Homo sapiens: one gene and its partners. The main gene of each other region encodes a partner of the protein of the gene in region 3 in a complex. Each region holds a gene or a part of one and is shown on either strand. Other genes may lie near its edges.

The links. Proteins that work in one complex are often made in the same cells at the same time.
Region 1: INTS6 (region 3) and INTS7 share a complex: the UniProt entries of both Homo sapiens proteins name them as parts of the integrator complex.
Region 2: INTS6 (region 3) and INTS9 share a complex: the UniProt entries of both Homo sapiens proteins name them as parts of the integrator complex.

The regions. Positions count from the first base shown.
Region 1 is NC_000001.11:211,941,558-211,948,582, forward strand, and holds part of INTS7 (integrator complex subunit 7), read right to left. Parts: intron 5,149-7,025; coding exon 5,050-5,148; intron 3,413-5,049; coding exon 3,227-3,412; intron 555-3,226; coding exon 267-554; 3' UTR 1-266. UniProt on the Homo sapiens protein: Component of the integrator complex, a multiprotein complex that terminates RNA polymerase II (Pol II) transcription in the promoter-proximal region of genes.
Region 2 is NC_000008.11:28,809,970-28,816,994, reverse strand, and holds part of INTS9 (integrator complex subunit 9), read left to right. Parts: intron 1-3,382; coding exon 3,383-3,503; intron 3,504-4,533; coding exon 4,534-4,668; intron 4,669-7,025. UniProt on the Homo sapiens protein: Component of the integrator complex, a multiprotein complex that terminates RNA polymerase II (Pol II) transcription in the promoter-proximal region of genes.
Region 3 is NC_000013.11:51,450,025-51,457,300, forward strand, and holds the start of INTS6 (integrator complex subunit 6), read right to left. Parts: upstream 3,013-7,276; 5' UTR 2,502-3,012; coding exon 2,391-2,501; intron 2,032-2,390; coding exon 1,954-2,031; intron 1,151-1,953; coding exon 1,001-1,150; coding exon of another isoform or gene 992-1,000; exon of another isoform or gene 1-991. UniProt on the Homo sapiens protein: Component of the integrator complex, a multiprotein complex that terminates RNA polymerase II (Pol II) transcription in the promoter-proximal region of genes.

The DNA of each region.
Region 1 (7,025 bases), on a different chromosome or scaffold from region 3:
ACTGTGTTAGCCAGGATGGTCTTGATCTCCTCGTGAGCCGCCCACCTCAGCCTCCCAAAGTGCTGGGATTACAGGCGTGAGCAACCACGCCCAGCTGTCAGACAAAATTTTTAAGAAAACAAAATTTTTTCCAGAATATTACATTACAAAAATCAATGAATAAATGAACTACACTGTAACTTTAATACTTATTCCATATGAAAAACCAAACTGTTTCTGGCAATTTGATTGATCTCTTGAGAGTCTGCAGTGCATTCATTCCATGGTTAAAACCGTGTGTAGGCATTGCGTTGCTGCTGCTGCTGTAATGGCTGCTGGGCTTGCTGCTGTTGTAAGCGAATTTGCTGGGAATAAGGGTCTTCCAGGGATTTTACAAATATGGTAGTTCTGGGACCAGTCTTCCATACTATACCATTGGCATCTTTCACAGAAGATTCCACTGTAATGTTGTGTGTTCCAAGGATAGCAAAGTTCAACAGAAATTGAGTACTGAAGTAATCATTATGAGGTTCAACCCTTTGCTCCATCTCATTGGTCATGTTGTCAATGGGTATCTGCAATGAAACAATTGTTAACTAACAACAATGGCTAACATTTCTTCAGTGCTTACTATGAGTTAGGCCCTGTTCTAAGAGCTTATTTAGACCATGCAGACAATAAAAAATTAGGTACTGCTATCATCCTTGCTTCACCGATGAGGAGTCTAAGGCAGACAGGTTAAGTAATGTCTCCAAAGTCACATGATTAGTGAACGGAGTAGGAATCTGAACACAGGCAGACTACCTCCAGGGCCTACACTCTGAACTACTAAGTGATGCTCCTCACTCTACTTGAGTAGAATGAGCTCCCAGAGCCGTTGACAGCCCCTTCACATGCTGGCCTTTCTTCCTTGCTTACTCAACCCCATCTCTAAATCCCTATCTTCCTTTAGACTGTGAAGAGATATTCTGAAGAAATAGGATGAAATCACCTGTTCCAGAGAGTTTAAAACCTAAGAGACTGAAAAAGAACAAAACACTAAGCAAATTTAAGTTAGGTTCCCCCCCAACAGTTAGTCTGATTTTTATTACTTAATGTAGTGATTCCTTACTCCTTTAACAAATTAACTGAACCATTTGTACATTGCTCATTTAATAAGCACTGTTTTGTTCAGACTGGAAGTACAATATGTTATAAAACACAGATTTATAGGCTCATTCATTTAGCCAGACACTCATGCCTTTGTTCTTCAAAGACCAGAATAAAACCTGCTGACGTACTCTTACCTGTACCCAAGATGAAACGTGTCAAGAGACAGATTTATCCTGAGAATGCAAATAAAGGTGATCTTAATGTGTATTTGACCAAATTACTCTAGGTTTATGTGCGTGTTTCTGTGGTGTAATTAATTATATAAATGTGCCCTGCAGCTTTGTGTCTCAAGGAGCAGTTATCATGTCACTTTTCCAGAGACATTTACCTGTAATAGTAATGAACTGACGTCACCAACCAATTCAAGGTCTTAGAATTATTTATAGTACAGGTACTTTTTCACATTTAGCCTTTGTACAGTTTTTATTTCCCTAAAGAATATGCCAACCAAAGAACTTCCTTAAAAGGACCAGAAATAGGCCTAGGGAACCTGATCACCCTGAATGGATGGCTGCATCTTAAGCTGCAAACTCACTGTGAATAACACTGCAAAGTAATCATGTTATTACTCGGCTTATTATATCAGCTTCCTGACTTTAATCAATGCCTCTTGAGAGGTAGGTCAACAAGCAGAAGACCATAGCTTCTAGGTTTGAATGTTATTTTCTTAACAGTAGAAATTATATGCAAGTAACAAAGAGAATCATGGTTACTACTGTTTCAAATTCAAAGTGAAGAGAGAGTTGCAGACAGGGATAAATTATGTAAATTCTCATTACAACCTTCTGTGACAGCAGATACCCAATTTTAACAGTTATACTCTAAATATAGTAAATAATTTTTTCATCATTCACAAATTATTGAGTGGCTACATAAGGTACCATGCTGTATGGCACAGAAGTCAAAACAGAGGAAAAGAGGAGAATGAAGGCTCAGCCGTGTCAGAGTGGACAGAGTGCCAAAGTGAGAGGAACTTGCCATAGTTAAGAAAGTAGTAATGGCTTAAGAAAGTAATAATAGTTTAGAACCAGACCTTCCCTTGGCTTTTTAACCTAAAACCACCAAAGATAATAAAATGCTCTCTTTTTATACCTTCACTGATACCCTGCCTTCCATGCTATGCCACAATAAACCTGGACACAGCCAATCTGGGCATCTGAGTAACTTCGCTGCTACAACTGTGGACTTGGTCCCTTGCTTCATTTACTGTGGATAAACCACCAGGGAATCGGAAATAAATGTCTAAAGCAAGGAACATTCTTTATCTCGAACACTGGCATTTCATGGGCACAGATTCAGCATCTTAGCTCTGGCTAACAATGTAGCCTAATTCAGGTTATTACTTACCTATATCCTGAGTTCCCAAGGCAGCAAATCCCTAGGGTTACACTCTTAAAAAAAGATTTTACTTTATCTGATCATTTTATAGAAATGCTATATACTTTTTTTAATGATAAAATTTACTTAAAATGGAGAAAACTAAATAGATGTGTATTTTTTGTGGGGAGGGATTGGGTGGGTTAGGGAGACACTTATTTTCCAACTTCTGACGTTTGAAGGGACCTCCTGATGTAAGAGAGACCTTTCGTTAGATTAATATTACTGACCTAGCAGGGAGGAGGTGAGTCTTGCTGATGGGTGACTTTCTGGGCAGGAACCAGACATGGGAAGGTAAGCACTTGCTCTTTCTCTTCTGCTTTGGGCACCTGAGTCCTCTGTGCCCTGCCATAAATTTTATAGGGGCAGGCTCCCATACGTACTGACTGAGGCTGGGTGAAAAAATCCAATTCAGGGGTCTACGGTTAGAAAGGCCTTGCTGCCAGGCATTGGAGTTAGGTTTTCCCACAGCTCCAACAGTAATAAAACTCATATTTTGATCTTTGCCTGGATGCTTTGTCTCTATCAACTGGTTCAGGGAGAGAAAAAGAAGTGTTTATCAACCCCTTACAGCCCCAATGTGGGCTTTTAATTTATGTCCATCTGATCCCTTTGGAGGTATAACTGCAATCTATTTAACCATGAAAAACACTGGAAAACTTCCATCAATGAGCTCATATAAAACCTGTATCACAATTCTGCCTCTTTTCTAAATTACCTTGTAGTCTTGTCCAGATTTACTCTGCAGTGTGGAAGAAACATTCAGACAGACAGACTGAATTTTGCGGAAGAGTCCTGGTTTAGATCCGTGCTGAACCACTCCCTCTACCTTTAGCGCCAGCTGCTGGTTATTCTGGACAGCAATGGGCTCTGCAGGATTCCGGGGCGATGGTGACAGAGCAAGCTGGAATGCCAACACTCAAATAAATGCCAACAACCAAGAGCAAGCTTCCTTCCGACAAACATGTCTGTGCTAATCACTGGTTACAGGTTAACAAATTCGATTGTGCACTCCCCCACCCCCACAGGACCTGACTGTGCCAGGACAACGAGACAGATGTACCTTTAAAGTGCCTCCTTCTAAACATCACTGTGGTTTTCATCCCAAACCTCAGTTCTATTTGAGGATAATAGAGAATTAGAAAAAAGCAAAGGCACTATTCTCCCAATTTTTGTGGTGAGGCATTTCTTTGACAATGAACCACTTCTAGTAGGGAAAGGCATTATATAAATTTTCATTACCTAAGAGCTGTCTCTTTGGTCTTACGTAATTTTAAATAAACTAAATTCAAATGTAAATGAACTTAAAGTTCCAGGATTATCTACACAACGAAGTCACTGTGCTATAAAAAAAGTCAATATCTACAAATGAATCAAATGACATTTTTCACCTCTCATTAGTTTTTCTTCAAAAATGTATTAAAAATCCCAAACACATCAATTAAAGAAAGCCCAAGTCTTGCTAAATGAAAAGATGGAAGAAATTTGAGTCTTTTTGATAATGTTGTTGAACTACTGATCAACCCTGGAGACATCCTACTTTAGGACTTCTTATCTAGATCGTCAAATCTTCCTCATTATTCCAGTCATTTTGAAATGGAATGCTCTGTTATTTGTAATCAAAACATTTGCATGGATGTAAAAGTTTACTGAAGACATTAACTAACAGGGATAATCCAGGAGATCTCTTAGAAGTGACAATTTTCTCCCTTTTCCAACAATTTCATTTTCTGAATCAAAAATAGCTTTTGAATTGTGAGTGGCTTAAATATTTCAAAATACTAATTCTACTCACTGGTTAGCCCCTCAAAACATGTTACTGAAAGGCAGAAGTACTTTGGAAGAAGAACTGGTGACAGTTTACTGGATCTGATTCATTCTAAGTTGGGTCTATAAGTTGGGTCTGAATAGACTCAGCTCAAGATCCTTGCAGGCTACTGTGATAAATCACTAATTTATTCCTGGAGGTGAGAGACAAACAACAGAGCTCCAGTTACCCAAATGCCTGTCTCATAGAATTTGGCACTGACAATTAAAAAGGGAGAGAGTTTAACTCCCAAATTCATTTCTTTCACCAAACCACTTGATAAAGGAGAGAAATGGCTTACAACTAGGTTTTATCAAAACCAAAGGTAAGCCAGGCACAGTGGCTCATGCCTGTAATCCCAGCACTTTGGGAGGCAGAGGTGGGTGGATCACTTGAGGTCAGGAGTTCCTGACCAGCCTAGCCAACATGGTGAAACCCCATCTTTACCAAAAATAAAAAAATCAGCTGCGTGAGGTGGTGGATGCCTGTAATCCCAGTTCCTTGGGAGGCTGAGGCAGGAGAATCGCTTGAACCCGGAGGTTGCGGTGAGCCAAAATCACACCACTGTACTCCAGCCCAGGCGACAGGGCGAGACTCTGTCTCAAAAAACAAAACAAAACAAAAAAACCAATAAACCAAAGGTAACACACTGAAGTGTAGCTATGTCCTACATAATCTTCAGAAGACACCTGGTTTTAAAACCTATATTAACCTTAGTATTCTTCCTGTATTACCTTGATGCTGGTAGACTGTAGTTTCTGGAAAAAATATCTCTGGAAAGAAAGGGGAACTTTCAGCAAAGCAATGATGGCATTGCAGAGGCATGCTGTGTGCTGGGGGAAAAAAGAAACTAAATCAAATAAAAATAAATTTTCAAATTTCATCAACAAGTGGTACATTCAGTATAAAACTACAAATGCCCATATAGATTATTACAAAGGTACATACCAATCAAGAACTAGGCATCACATCCAGGAACTGTGCATACATACTAAATCATTCATTACAGATTTTTACTTTATTGTGAAGTATATTCAATAAAATATAAGTGACAGAAATGAGAAAATCCACAGTCCTCGAGGCCAAGCAATAGGCAAATTCCACATTTCTACAGCGCTCAGAACTATCAGTATATTATTAAACAATTATATTAGATACTAAAATATAGAGTAACTATCACATGGCAAAGTATGATAAACAGTATGGTAAAGAAGCCCGAGCATTTTGCAGGACTTTGGCTTTGAGCTGGCTCATTCTTTCATTAGGTGGCTTGTCTCTATGGCCATTGGTCCTCAGAGTAAGCAGTGGTGGAAACTTGGTCGAATTCAGATGAAAGAGGACTATATAGTCGGGGAATCCTGAAACTCTAATAAAATATCTTATTTCTCAAATCTGCCTCACACATTTAACTGAGTTTTGAAAATCCCAGCATGACTGCAGAGGTACAGAAACACCACAGAGAATATTTTGAGCCTTAATGAAAGTGGTCATAAAATCAGAATTTAAGCGTTCAAAGATATTTTAAAGATTACCCAGTCTAATAGAAGAAAACTGAAAGTATCATAAGAACACTTTTAACTTCAGGTGAACCAGAACCATTCCTGCTTGGTCTACTATCCCTTCCTCAGTCTACTCCCGTCTCAGTGGCCTCGTAAGTCACCACAGTGAGGCAGCGCTCCTTTCACGGGGGCACTAGCTGCGGGAGGTCTGTTCTTGCAGACCCGATTCAGCAACGGATAAATAAAGTATGCTGACACACAGATATTCTGCTCTGCCAGTCCAGCTGAGGGTCCCAGCCGCTTACAGGCTCCTGCTGAGTCCTGTAAACAGTTGCAACTAGGCCCTGATCAGCTAGTCAGACTCGCATTTATTCAGTAAGATTAATTAACAAAAGCTTGAGTCAACACCATTAGAGGGAAATTGACATTGTGGACTTCTGAGTAAAAGGCACTTAAGCACTCACGGTACATCAAAGGTTAGTCTTTATATGAGTAAACAAGCTAGCCAGGTAAACTACTCTGCCTTTCTTTATTACTATTTTAATTTGTTTAAAGGTAAAGAGATCAGGCCGCCTTCAGCCAGATCTATTACTGAAGTTAGGCAAACTTCTCAGCCTTCCAAGAAGATTTGTGTCTATTTCTATAACTATCTCTAATATTTTTCCCACCAGCCTGATTGAAACCCAACACCACAGGTTGAAAACTGCTGCATGCACCATGTGGTATGCTGTCTGTCCCTCTAGGCTCCTGCTTTCAAGCAGAGTGTCACCTAGTTGCTCATGCTGTAAACATTTTTTTTTTTAAAGTTGGGTGTTAAGGCTAAAAGCCAGAAAAATCCATTCCTTATTGGGTTCAGGCAATTGAACATTTTGTGCCCAACAGACTCATAGTACAAATGCCAAGTCTATTACCTGAGATAATCACAACACAGATTTAAAGACACTGGTTCTATTTTTTCAGATTTAACTGTTAAAATAGCATTAATCAGCTTCCTGCAACAAGTAATTTGGAAAGTATTTGCAGAGACATCCACCTTTGGTGGACCTCTGATGCCACACTAGTGTCTAAGGAGAGAAACATCTTTGAAGCGTGGACTCAGAGGACCACAAGGGACTTCAGGCTGTTTTCAGGCAGAAAGTCACCATTTTGCCTTTTAAAAGAATGGTGCAGATTTTGCAATACCCTCTTGGAAAAGTGTGGAGTGCCTCTGA
Region 2 (7,025 bases), on a different chromosome or scaffold from region 3:
ATCAAAAAGTGGGCAAAGGACATGAACAGACACTTCTCAAAAGAAGACATTTATGCAGCCAAAAAACACATGAAAAAATGCTCACCATCACTGGCCATCAGAGAAATGCAAATGAAAACCACAATGAGATACCACCTTACACCAGTTAGAATGGCAATCATTAAAAAGTCAGGAAACAACAGGTGCTGGAGAGGATGTGGAGAAATAGGAACACTTTTACACTGTTGGTGGGACTGTAAACTAGTTCAACCATTGTGGAAGTCAGTGTGGCGATTCCTCAGGGATCTAGAACTAGAAATACCATTTGACCCAGCCATCCCATTACTGGGTATATACCCAAAGGACTATAAGTCATGCTGCTATAAAGACACATGCACACGTATGTTTATTGCGGCACTATTCACAATAGCAAAGACTTGGAACCAACCCAAATGTCCAACAATGATAGACTGGATTAAGAAAATGTGGCACATATACACCATGGAATACTATGCAGCCATAAAAAATGATGAGTTCATGTCCTTTGTAGGGACATGGACGAAATTGGAAATCATCATTCACAGTAAACTATCGCAAGAACAAAAAAACCAAACACCGCATATTCTCACTCATAGGTGGGAATTGAACAATGAGAACATATGGACACAGGAAGGGGAACATCACACTCTGGGGACTGTTGTGGGTGGGGGGAGGGGGGAGGGACAGCTTTAGGGGACATACCTAATGCTAAATGACGAGTTAATGGGTGCAGCACACCAGCATGGCACATGTATACATATGTAACTAACCTGCACATTGTGCACATGTACCCTAAAACTTAAAGTATAATAATAATAAAATTTTTAAAAAAGGAAAAAAAAAAGAAAGTCAGTTTTGCTAGATATATAGTCCTTGGCATGCATTTTCTTTCTTTGAGTATCTTAAATATGTTCTCATATTTTTTTCTAATATTAAACATTGCTATTAAAAACACTGATAAAATCTAATTTTCTTTCCTTGTAAGTCACTTGTTCTTTTCCTAGATCCCAAAGGTTTGCTTGTAGTCTAAATATTTTCCAGAATATGTCTGTTGTTCATTGTTCTGGGTCAGTATTCTCAAGTGTACACTGTGTTCTTTTAGTGTGTAGTTTCGTGTCTCTTCATTTTAGCAATTATAGTATTTAGTAATTGAATATTATGAGTGTTAATTATTATTCTCACTTGGTTTTCTGTGATGCCACATAAGATTCCCTTATGTGGCATCTTGCTTATCTGTCTTCAACATTTGTTAGGTTCTTTTGAATTGTTTAAATCTCTTCATTTCTTTTTGGTATTTTTTATTAATCTACTCTTGTGTTTCTATTACAGGTTGAGTGTCCCTTATGTGAAATACTTGGGACCAAAGTGTTTCAGACTTCAGACTTTTTCCGATTTTGGAATATTGCTGATTGAGCATCCCAAATCCAAAATCCAAAGTAATCCAGTGAGCATTTCCTTTAAGCGTCATGTTTGCCTCAAAAAGCTGCAGATTTTAGACCATTTCTGACTTCAGGTTTTCAGATTTGGGATGGTCAACATGTAGTTTAGTCTTCATTTCCAAAATGATGTTTTCTTTTATTTCTAATTCTTTATTGAGTTTTGTCACCTCATTTATAAGCTTTGCTGGTTTTTCATGTATGTACCTCTTTCACGTTTGTATAACTTTTAAATCTTTTTAGCTTATTTGAAATTCTGGTGTATTGTTGGCATGCTTTCACTCTCTATATGACATTGTATTTCTAATTTGTAACAGCTCTTTTTATTCTCTTAATCTTTTATTTTGTAGCAATCTCTTCTCATTTCTTAGCTATACTATCTTATTTTTCTAACGATAGTAAGGACAAGCTGTTCTTAAAGTTTTCTTCTACCTGCCTAATTTATTTCTTCTAATTTCCCTGCCTGCTCCTCTGCCCCCACTTGAGGCCTTTATTATTTTAGAGACTTTTCTCAAATTTATGGTAGTCCTTGGCTATTGGCTCATGTTTAAGAGTTGAACGATTAAAAAAACTAATTAGAAAGTCTATGTGCCATGGGTAGGACTTGTTCACTTCCACACTTTACCATAAAGTAATCTGATTGAGCTGTTTCTTTGTGGAATCCTCTGCGTTAGAATCTTTTCATTAATTTTTTTTCTTTGAGGCTGATCGGATTCTTCAGAGAAGATTCTTTCAGCCCCCTACCCTGAGGGGAATAAGCTTACTCATAGTGCTTTGGCAGCCAAATGAGGAGAGGAACATTGTTCCTCTGTAAATTTTTGTTTAGGAAGGCTGTCTCAGTTGATGGTTTCCCGTAGTCCAGACTTTCATTTTTACTCCCTCCAGAGAACAACCTCTGGTAGCATACCTGAGAGGAGAAGGGACATCTGCTGAGCTATATGGAAGGAATGAGGAGATCTGGAAGGTTCTAAGTATCTCGTCTCTTTTTTCAACAGTTCCTCTTGTTTTTAGGTTGATTCAACTTCCTGATACACCTGTTGTTTTCAGTTGCCATATTTTTTGTGGGTTCTGCAGTAGAAATTAAACGTTTGCATTGAACTTTCCTGGGCCTATGAAGTCAGTTATCATTTGTCTGTCTACTTTCTAAAATGCCTTGCTATTGTCTCTTCTCTCATTCTCTTTGTCTTAAGGGTGTGTGTGTGAGAGTGTGTGTGTGTGTGTGTGTGTGTGTGTGTGTGTGTGTGTGTGTGTGTGTGAGAAGCCCTGTTCAGTGTTGTTTCAGGAGAGAGAGGAGAGGCTAATGGCATGCATTCATTTCACCCCAGTACTTGGACCTGTATTGTACAGTGAATGTCAGGGAAGTTACTCTTCAGGTCTCCTGATTCTTTTGGAGCAAATGATAAAACGTTTTTCTGTTGACACATTTTGGGCGACATAGCAAGACCATGTCTCTATTTTTTTTTTTTTTTTAAAAAAAGAAATGGCTGAGCACGGTGGCTCATGCCTGTAATCCCAGCACTTTGGGAGGCCGAGTTGGGCCTATCACAAGGTCAGGAGATTGAGACCATCATGGCCAACATGGTGAAACCCCATCTCTACTAAAAATACAAAAATTAGCCGGGCATGGTGGTGGGCGCCTGTAATCCCAGCTACTTAGGAGGCTGAGGCAGGAGATTCGCTTGAACCCGGGAGGTGGAGGTTGCAGTGAGCCGAGATGGCGCCATAGCACTCCAGCCTGGTGACACAGTGAGACTCTGTCTCAAAAAAAGTAAAAATAAAAACAGAGAAATGGTCATAAAGGAATCCTATGAACAATTATATGCCAGTAAATTAAACCATTTGGATCAAATGGACAAATTACTAGAAAGGAATGCTGTAGAACATGAAGAAATGTTCACCTGGTAGTTGACATTGTGATCCATTTGCAGGCTGTTACCTTCTCCTCTCAAGGATGCAGTGGAAGTCTCAACCTGGAGAAGATGCTATACAATGCAAGAGGTGAACTCTGCCCTTAGTAAAATCCAGCTGGTGGGATATTCTCAGAAAATTGTGAGTATTCATATTACATTTCAGTTATTCATGAATGCTTTCCATTCATATTGTTGTTTGTTGTTTGGAAGAATCCTATAGTTACGTTTTTAAAGCCATTCCATTGCTGAGGATCCAGAGCCTCTGTTCTTTCCTCCGTTCCGCGCAGGATTTTATTGGTGCTCTTTCCCCACCCTCACATCTCCATCACCAGCCAGCATTCGATTGGCCAGCGTGCAGGGAGTCCGGAGAAAGGCGTCTCATCCTGTTCACATTAGATTTTATAGATTTTGGATGGGTGAAACGGGAAGAGAGAAGAGTTTGTCAAGTGTGACTTTTGAGCTCTGACCTAAATGATAAGCCTTCCCATTTCTTACTGTCATCCTGTGCCCAGAGCTACTCAGTACCGAACAACAAGGGCCTAACACCTAACTGAAAATGAAAAAGGAAAGCCAAAGTGTGTGAGTCTTTGGTCTGTTTGGTAATATTTCATCTCTCCCTTTTAATGTGTGAACCTTGAGTGCCTGGGGACATGGAAGAGAGCTGAAGCTCTCAGGTGACAAGTAAATATTATAGGATTGCTTTCTTTGTCTGCCAGTTGATCTCCATCATCTTTCTGTTTTCCTTAAAACTTTCTAGTTTACTTTATTGATTGATTGACTGAGACAAGGTCCCACTTTGTTACTCAGGCTGGAGCGCAGTGGTACAAACATGGCTCACTGCAGCCTCAACTTCCCGGGCTCCAGTGATCCTCCTGCCCCAAGTAGCTGCTTGAGGACTACAGGCATGTGCCACCATGCCCAGCTAATTTTTGTATTTTTTTGTAGAGACAGGGTTTCACCATGTTGCCCAGGCTGGTCTTGAACTCCTGGCCTCAGCCTCCCAAAGTGCTGGGATTACAGGCGTGAGCCATTGCACCCAGTCTCTGGTTTACTTTAAAATAATTTTTGTTTTTAAACTGAGGATATTTCTGTTGTTTTTCCCTGCAGAATTACCTCATGTGACTGTCACTGTAAGCTCATTGCACATTCTTACTGTGGTTCTCTTTTAGGAGCTTTTTGGTGCGGTCCAGGTGACTCCTCTGAGCTCTGGCTATGCCCTTGGGAGCTCCAACTGGATCATCCAGTCTCATTACGAGAAAGTGTCTTATGTCTCTGGATCCTCCTTGCTTACCACACACCCCCAGGTAATTCCAAATTCTCTTCTAGCAACTCAGCTTTTTGGTTACTTAAGTCAAATTCAGAATGTATCCAAGGAACCATCAGCCATTTTTAAATCTTCCAAATATGGTTTTCTACAGATACTCTCTAGCCAAGGTAGACTATTTGAGTCTCAACATTTTGACCTACAGGTTTCTCTGAAATAGTCCTGCTACCTTGAGGGTCACTCCTAGGATTCTGAAATCCCCCAGGCCTTCCAAAGACCATAGCCTGATGTGGGACACAGATGGTTATGCATTTACTCAGCAAATATTAACTGTTTAAAATCCTTCCCAAGGGCCAAGTGTCAAGTGTCATGCACACATCTGGGTATTGGGGATTCAGTGGTGACCAACGGGCAAAGCATGTGCCCGTAGATCTTATGTTGTAGGGGAGTTGATGATGTTGGGGAGAGGATGGTGTATAGTAGGTAAACAAATAAAGTGCCTGGTCATTTCCGATTGAGATACAAGTACTGAAAACAGTAAAGCAGGGTGATTTTCAGAATGATGGCCATTGGTTTAGATTGGGTGCCCAGGAAAGCCAATGGGAAGATCTCACTTGAACTGAGACCTGGAGAGATAAACCATGTCGGCTGGGCGCGGTGGCTCATACCTGTAATCCCATCATTTTGGGAGGCCGAAATGGGATAACTGCTTGAGCCTAGGAGTTCAGGACCGGCCTGGGCAATATGGCAAAACTCTGTCTCTACAAAAAATACAAAAATTACCCGGGTGTGGTGGCACACGCTGTGGTCCCAGCTACTCAGGAAGCTAAGGCAGAAGGATCGCTTGAGCCTGGGAAGCGGAGGTTGCAGTCAGCCGAGATTGCGCCACCGTACTCCAGTGCGGGTAACAGAGTGAGATTATGCCTCAAGAAAAAAAAAAAAAGGCCGGGTATGGTGGCTCATGCCTGTAATCCCAGCACTTTGGGAAGCCAAGGCGAGTGGATCACTTTAGGTCAGGAGTTCAAGACCAACCTGGCCAACATGGTGAAACCCCATCTCTACTAAAAATACAAAAATTAGGTGTGATGGTGTGCACCTATAATCCCAGCTACTTGGGAGGCTGAGGCGGGAGAATCACTTGAACTCGGGAGACAGAGGTTGCAGTGAGCTGAGATCATGCTGCTGTACCCAGCCTGGGTGACAGAGTGAGACTCCATCTCAACAAAAAAAAAAAAAAAGAGAGAGAAAGAAAAAAGAAAAACAGAGAAATTAGCCACGTAAAGCCGTGAGTGTTTGTATTACAAAGGGATGGCCAGTGAAGGGCCCCTAAAGTAAGAATAAGCTGGGCATGTTTGAAGGGCAGAGAAGGCTATTGTGGTCACAGCGTGGAGGTCAGCAGTGAGGTCCAAGAGAGTGGCAGACACCATGTCATGTAGTGTTAGCAGGCTGTGAGGAGGAATTTTGGTTTTATTTTAATATGGAGAGGGAAACTATTGGAACGTTTTAAGTTATTCATTCCAGTCATATTTGGCAAGAAGCCTAGCACATATAAACATTGTTATGAATGTGATACTTACTCCTTTTTGGTATTTGTAAATAATTTACTGTTCATTTCCTGAATGTTGGTTATTTCTATGTTTGTAATAGGGAGTGGGGGGACATTAGTTAGCTGTTGAATGGGTATATAGATACATTAGGTAACTTGTGGAAGTCCATATTACATTTGTTTATCTACATCTATTTACGGAGAGAGAGAGAGAGAGAGAAGGTCTTGTTCTGTCACCCGGACTGGAGTACAGTGGTGTAGTCATAGCTCACTGTAATCTCAAACTCCTGGGCTCAAGCAGTCCTCCCAAGTAGCTAGGACTATAGCCACCACACCTGGCCTATTTATTTTTTAACATAACCTCAAATTTTTATTGTCTTCATAATAAAACCAAAAATGAAGCTAAGAACTGGATCACTTGGCCTTTTCTCCTTTTATCCCTTCCCAGTTAAAAATACTTGTATCTCTAGTAGCCAGCATTCTCCTAGATCTGCAGTTGGGCCCAACACTTAAGCTTTAGCACAATCTCGTTTGTAGTTTTAGCCTTTTTCCAGAAGATTGGCTTGGTCTGCCTACATAGCCACCCCTTCCTGCCATTAAGCCACTTTCCCTTGGCATACAGATCATCTTTTCCCTTCTTGTACCATGTCACTCTGTGGGGTTGGTGCCAACCATGCTTCTTACACAAAGTCCAGTGGGTTTGAAGAACATTCACCATGTTAGAGCACTATCAGTAAAGAAAGAAAGAAATTATTCATTTTTTAATTACAAATAAAAATTGTATATATTTATGGTATGCATGATGTCTTGATATGTGCATGCATTATGGAATGGCTAAGTCAATAATTAAC
Region 3 (7,276 bases):
ATTTCCTTCAATAGGAAGCAAATAAAAGTTGTAGTCACAGAAAGAATTTCCCTGAAATGTACGAAACTCACAAAACTAGGGACTGTGGGACTTGGGAAAATACAACATATACCCAATATATAATTAGGAATAGTGCTTTTCACTACAACATAAGAACTGAGCTCCTTGGAAATAATATTCCTTTGTTACATGTAACATTATACATTGTTCAGTATCTTTTATTTCCAGGGCAATAATATCATAAAATGTTACAATAGACCACCTTGCATTATTCCTTAGTGAATTATTGTTGATTTAAAGCTCCTCTCATCCTCAAATACATGAAAGTAAGTGCAATAAAAGGACTTGTGGGGGTTAAGAAACGAAGGGTTCTTTCATATTTTCCAGCAGTCTTTTTTTCCAAGGGTTTGGAGTTTAAATCAAAACTCTGGGCCTGAAATTTAATTCAGAGTTCTTCCTGCAATAGTTGTTAACTGTGTATGCTTCAAAAGAAAACTTAAATGTTCTCAGCCAGTGACTGTACTCCAGTGAAAAACTTCTTACCTTTCAGAATAGTTATACAACATGGTCACATTAAACCCTGATGCAACAAACAGATTAATTTCCTCTAACATCTTTACTAATATAGAAACGAAGAACACGAACTAGTGTCTCTAAGCCACTATAATAGTTGCACATACAACATGAGTGTGGTGTGGTAGGATGCTTTTCCTTTTAGGTCTTTACTGAACTTTCAAGGGATTAAAACCAATGTATGTCAACTTTATAGCAAAAGTTTCAGATTCTAATCCTGAATACCAATGCATTTTAGAGGGGGAAAAAATGAGGGATGTAAAATATATATAGTAGGGTAAGAGTTTTGCCTTTGAACAATGTGCATATTCTATTTTAATTTGGAATGTTTTATACTTGCATTTCATGTTATGTAGTTTTTGGACTGGACTGTGTTTTTCCACAAAATGAAAAATCAACTATTTTGCCACCTTATTATTCAACCTACCTGCCCATAGTTGTCTATGCCAGTTACTAATCTATTTAAATTTAATAAATCAAAAGCTGTCCTTAGGGATTGGCCAAGAGTCGTAAGTCCTTCAGCCTGAAGGTTTTTCAATTCATTCATAAACGTTGCATGGTTTTCTTTCCATCCAGCCTGAAAAGAAAAATGTAAGATTTTTTTTTTTCATTTTTTAAAGCCATGTACACAGAGCCGTTATAATCTGACGTTCACCAAGTAGCAGCTTCACTTTTGGTTGGTTTGGCTTGGTTAACGTGTTAATACTGTACCGCTGCTGAGGAAACTCTCTTCCAAAGGTGGCCCAGGAATAACCCAGCTTCCTCTCTAGGTTTTGGTAGTTAACTGCCTTAATACTTTATAACTTCACTGACAAATTTACTACCTAATCTAATACCCAAAATTTGGGTATGTGAAGGTACTAGTGGAAGCAGATGGGAGCCGGACTTAGGAAGTTAACCTGCAGCTGTCCCACCGGCCCTCTTAGGACGAATCTGACAAGACCAATCCTGGCAGCCCCGCATCTGGCTTCCGGGCCGGCCGGGCCGATTCCCCTTTAATGCAAACCGGGGCTGTGCGCGGCCGGGCCCGGCTGTCACTCCGGCTAACTTGAATAAATATCCCCCACAGTTCATTGCTGCCGCTCACGCCGCGGAGGGGAAATGTCGGCCATGTTGATAGCAGCGCCGCCGCCGCCGCCGCCGCCGCCGCTGCCGGGCCGGGCCGGGAGGGGACGGCGGTGGCCCCGCGACTCCGCGCCGCGCTAGGACGCTGCCGAGCGGGGGAGGGGGTGGGAGCCCGCAGGGAAGAGACCTCAGCGGCTGGGAGCGCAGCGGGTGGGGGAGGGGAGCATAATGAAGGGTGAATGGGGGGGCGGGGAGGGCGAGCGAGGAAGGAACAGGGAAGGGAAGGGAGGAAAGGGGGAGGGCGAGGGCTGTTACCTTGATAGCATAGGGCGGCTCTTCGAAAGTGACCAGCATATACCTGTCTCCTCTGCTGGCAGGGTCCCGGGCACGGAGCTGCGGGACGGGAGGAGGAACAGGGCGGGCGACAGGGAAGCACAGAGGCGAGGTTACGAGGCGGAGAAGGGGCGCCCAGCGGCCCCGCCGCCCCCACAGTACCGCACACGCAGCGGCCACCCCTCCACGCCGTCCCCCACACACAGATCGCTCCCCACACACCGCCCGGGGCCGGAGCCCGGGCCCCGGCCGAACCCGGCTCGCAGCGCCCGCCCGCCCGCGCGGTGGGGGAGGGGGTCCCCGAGCCCGGCAGCTCCCGCAGTCAGGTCCCCGACACCCCCGCCCCGGCCGCCCTCCCCCACCCTGCCGCCCGCGGGCCGCCGGGCCGGGGTCGCCGCCCGGGCTCGGTCAGTCGGTACCTTCATGAAGGTCTCTACCGCGCCTTTGGCCGTGTCCAGGTAGGTGGTGCCCAGATGGCTGCGCTGGTTCATAGAGGCAGACGTGTCTATCAGGAACAGTAAGATGGGCATAGTGCTGGCCGGGGACACCGGGGCCCGAGGTGGTGGAGAAAGAGGAGATGGTAGAGGTGGAGGCGCCGGTGGCGGCGACCGCCGCTACGCGGGGCGGGGGAGCACGGCCCCCGGGAGGAAAACACTGTCTGGGTCTTTCCTCCGGCTGCGGGGAGTTTCTCCCCCGATAGTTGAGAGGAAACTCCCCAGACCCAGTGCTCCCCGTCGTACCCCCGCCTCCGCCTCCTCCTGCCTGCCTGCCCGCTGGGGCGGGCGCCCAGCCGTCTGTCTGTCGGTTCGTCCCCCCCGCCTCGGGGGTCCCGTCCCCGCTCCCGGCCCCTGTGTGTGTCCCAGCGGGAGACGGGCCTGGCTCCCCACCCCACCCCCGGTACAGGAGTGGGGACCTGGGAGCTGGCGAAGAGGGGAGTGGGCTGAGGGAAGATTGGCCCTGGGGCTGTTGGGAGAAGTTTCAGGGACTCCCTCCGCACCCCGGCGGTGTCACCACTTTCTCAGCCCCTCTCGCTACTGAAGCGCTTTTCTCTCTCACACTCCGGTTTTAACTCGGGCAGGGGCTGCGGAGGCTCCGCCCCTGACACGTCCCCGAGCCACGTGATACACCGCCTCGCCGTTCTACTGGTCAGGCCCTATCCTTTCATTAGCATATTTAAACAGCTCAGGGGCGGGGGAAGCTTGTAGGCCGGCTCCGGGGACAGTTATTGAGCACGCGCAGAGGCGGGGCGTCGGGTGCGCGCGAGCGGGCGGGCGGGCCGACCCGGAGGCGGGCTTCGGGAAGGGGCGGGGCCGGACTGCGGAAGGACCGCGAGGTGGGGGCGGGGGCCGCGTCCGCGCGCGCGGGGCGGCCGCGGCGGTGAGCCTGCGCGTCAGGGCCGCCGGCCTCTCCTTGGCTGTTGGAGGTGATAGGGGTCGAGGGGAGGGAAAAAGGGGCTGGCGTCAGCCGCCCCTGTGAGGTGGCCGTAGCGTGGACGAGTAAGAAGGGTTGAGTAAAGTGGACAAACACCTGGTTAGGAGAAGAGGGCAGGCCCGCAGCCGCCCTCCGGAGGAGGACTCGGGGCCTCGCGGGCGCCGGAGGAGGTTCCTGGGCCTCGGAGGGCCGCCCCGGCGCGCCGCCCCGGCGCGAGCGGGCGCGGGCGGGGGAGGGGAAGTGAGAGGTTGTTTATGACCGGGGACTAATCTCCTCCGCGAGTCCCAGCGCTCCCTCTGGGGAGTGCGGTTGAGGGGCTGTCCTCGCACGGAGCCTCGCTCGGCCTCGGGGGAGCCACGAGAGGTGGGAGTTGGACCCGCAGCGGGCCAGGAGCCCTGTCATTGGAGGACCCGCCAAAAAGGAAGCAAACCCTCTTTTTCTTTATCCAACCCCAAATAGCTAGGGCCTAGGGGGAAGACTCACATATCGATAAATGGTTTGTTGCCCGTTTTATTCTCTGGGAAATACAACTGATCTTACCAAAGAAATAACCTGTCTCTTGCCGTGTTTACTTAGAGCCATAGAATACCTGTTTCAGAGCTGAAGGGGACCTGAGCCCATGATAATCCATTACCTCGTGAGAAAGCGGAAAAACTGACTTCAGCTTGCCCAGATGGCGCAGAGAATGGGTTTCCCGTAACCCCGCCTGTGTCTTTCCTTCAGCCTCGTCCCAAATGCCGTGGGAGGGAAGGCACTCTCTGTCAAGCTGCTGTCACCTTACCTGAAGTAAGGAGTCCACGCCTGCATGTCCGAGGAAAACAGTTTTCTCAAACACATTAGTTGAAAAACTGAAGACGCTGCCTAAAATACAAGCTGAGTTAGAGACAGCCCTTGTAAGACTAGGTAGGTATTTACAGGGCCTCTCCCACTAGCTTTGTTTTTCCAGAGTTTGTTCTTTATCCGGAAATTCTTAATTTGCCTACTGATCATTTAAAGAAAGGGTTCTATTAACATTGACACAGAAGAGACACTTTGTGGCACTTTTTAAAAATCTGAGTCTCGTGACTTGGTATAACTTCTGAAACTTACTGTTAATTTATAGCAGAGCTATTTGAGTAATATGCTCTTCTATGAGTATGAACAATAGAAGAAGTGTGATTTTTAAAGTGATTTGGACTACAAAATAAGAGCATGGAATATAGGCTTTACAGCCAGTACTTGCTGAGGATGTACTGTGTATTAGGTGTGGTGCATATAAAAAATAAATAAAATGTGGTCCCTGTCTTCAAAGAGCTTATGTTTTCTAGGAAAATGCTACATATTACTAGCTACTCCAAGGCAGAAAGTTGTTAGACACCAAATCAGAAAAAATAAAAATGTATTACCTTGGGGTGATGCAGGAACATTTTCCAAGGTTTCAGCTTTGCCTTAGTGTTTCTTAAACGGATCATAGATCTGAAGATAAGAATCAGAGTTCTATGGCAAAATACGAGTTATTTTACCAGTTATAAAGATGAAATTTGTCTTTCAACTTGATCATTTGCATAATTTTATACAATTGCTCTTTAGTTCTTTATATTTGTGCTTTTCAAACTGGTCTGTGGACCCCAGCCTACTGAAAACATTCTCTAGGATCATAAGAATTTATTTTAGGAGTCTGTTCATTATTCAGTTTTAAGAAACACTGTCTTAAAGGACTGGTAGGATTTGGATATGGGTAAAGGAAGGGGAAGCTGCTAGTGAAAAGATCTTCCCGACATTGAAAATGTGAAGAAAGGAAGTTAAGACAGCATTGCTGAGGGCTTCCTGAGGAACAGTGAAGTTCAGCTAGGTTGGAGCAACAGGTGCATGTAGAATAGTACAAGATCTAGAAACACAGGTGAGATCTAGACAGTAGAGGGCCTTTATTCCAATCTATGGAGGTTTTTTTTCCCCTATAAATTGGAGATTTATTTTTCAATTGCGTTGCTAAGTAGAAGCAATGTTTGAAAGAAATCAAACTAGACTACTGAAGATTAACATGCGTTCACAATGACCTTACCTATTATTACAGTTATTCGAAATCATTTTTCAGTGGAGCCATTGTCACAGGATCCTTGGAGTGTCACTTTTCCAGCTGGAAAAATGGCACCTCTGCCCGAATTTTGGTCGGGCTCATTCTGCCCACCAGTCCCAGCAGGCTGCACTCTGCTCATACTACGGCCTGGATCCCACACCTGCCAAGTGCAAGCCAGGTGCGGAGCAGCGAGGGGTGTGTGAGCGAGCAAGCATGGGGTCCGGCCACTGTATACAGCCCGGCATGCCAGCTGCAGGAGGGCGGGCAGCTCTAGGGGCTGGCCCCTTGCAAGGCTGTGGCTGGTCCAGGTGTACTGCAAGCAGCTTCCACAGCTGGCACCAGGGAATGCAGTGGCACCTGGAAGCTTGGAGATGCCAGGAGCTGCAGAGCCCCAAAGAGGTTGTCACAGGGAGCTCCTAGGTCTAGGCTTCCTAAAGGGCCACAGCTCTTCTCTCCTCTCTTCCCCCTTCTCTTTCCTTTCTTCTTCTCTTCTTCTCTCTTCTCTTGTTGTGTTGCCCACAACATGGCAAGCAAGGGGCATATTTCAGCCCGTTTGTGTTACAGCTCTTTCAGCCATGCCATTTGGCAGGTCCCGAGTTATTGTCCCACATCCAGGAAGAATGAGGTATGTGGACAAGTGGAGGGTGAGCAAGGCAAAGAGGTGCTTTGTTGAGTGACAGAACAGCTCAGAGGAGACCTGAGGGCAATGAGTAGCTTCTTTCTGCAGGCAGGTCATCCCAATAAGTGTCCAGCTCTCAGCAGAGAGGAGACCCACAATGGGTAGTTCCTCTCAGCAGGCAGGTGGTCCTGTCATCTGCTCAGCTCTCCACAGAGGAGACCCACAGTGTCCATAGACCCACAGTGGGTAGCTCCTGTCTGCAAGCAGGTCATCTCATTGTCTGCCCAAGTCTGGTTCACTCCAGGGTTTTTATGGGCTTCTGAGAGGAAGAAGTGTGTGCTGATTGGTCCATGGCGCAGCCATGGGCAGGCCTGGAGAAAGCACCATAAGTTCTCACTCCGTTGCATGGAACTGGCAGCCTGACCCCTGGCGTTACCGGGGACCCACCCCTTTCCGCCCAGGAGCCTGTGTGGATCCTGCTGCCATTAACCTGCCATCCACAGTGCCCATGGCGCCCAGGTTGTTCATGCTAAGTGGTACCTACAGGCCTTCACTGAGATGTCCTTATTCCCGCCTCGGCCTGCCTCCCTCCTGTGCTCATCAGCACCCAAAGTCCAGAGGGGACTGAGGCAGCATGGGGCTTGCGTGTCAATGCTGCCCCAAGCACGTGCACACCTGGTCGGGTCGTGACAGCACCCAGGCTTAGTCACAACTTTGCTCTGAAATCAGAGCGGGTGCTGGGAGCGGGGAGAGGCCAGGCAGTGGGAGCAGGCACTTCCAAGCCTGCGGGAGCAGGGAGCTTCCTGGTCCCCTGAGAGTGGGTCTTCTCTCTGTGGAGAGCTGAGAAGATGACGGGATGACTTGCCTGCTGAGAGGAACTACCCACTGTGGGTCTCCTCTCTGCTAAGAGCTGGACACTTATTGGGATGACTTGCCTGCAGAAAGAAGCTACCCATTGCCCTCAGGTCTCCTCTGAGCTGTTCTGTCGCTCAGCAAAGCACCTCTTTGCCTTGCTTACCCTCCACTTGTCCGGAGATGAATGGGTCCACAACCATGACTGGGTGGCTGCAGCTGCACTCAGGAGGGCAGGACTCCCACTCTTCCAACTTGGAAGCGGGCAGGGCTTCTGCCTGTTCCCAGCTCTTGCTGGCTCCATAGAGCACCGCCGCGGCTGTAGCCGTGCCTCCCCGATTATAGCC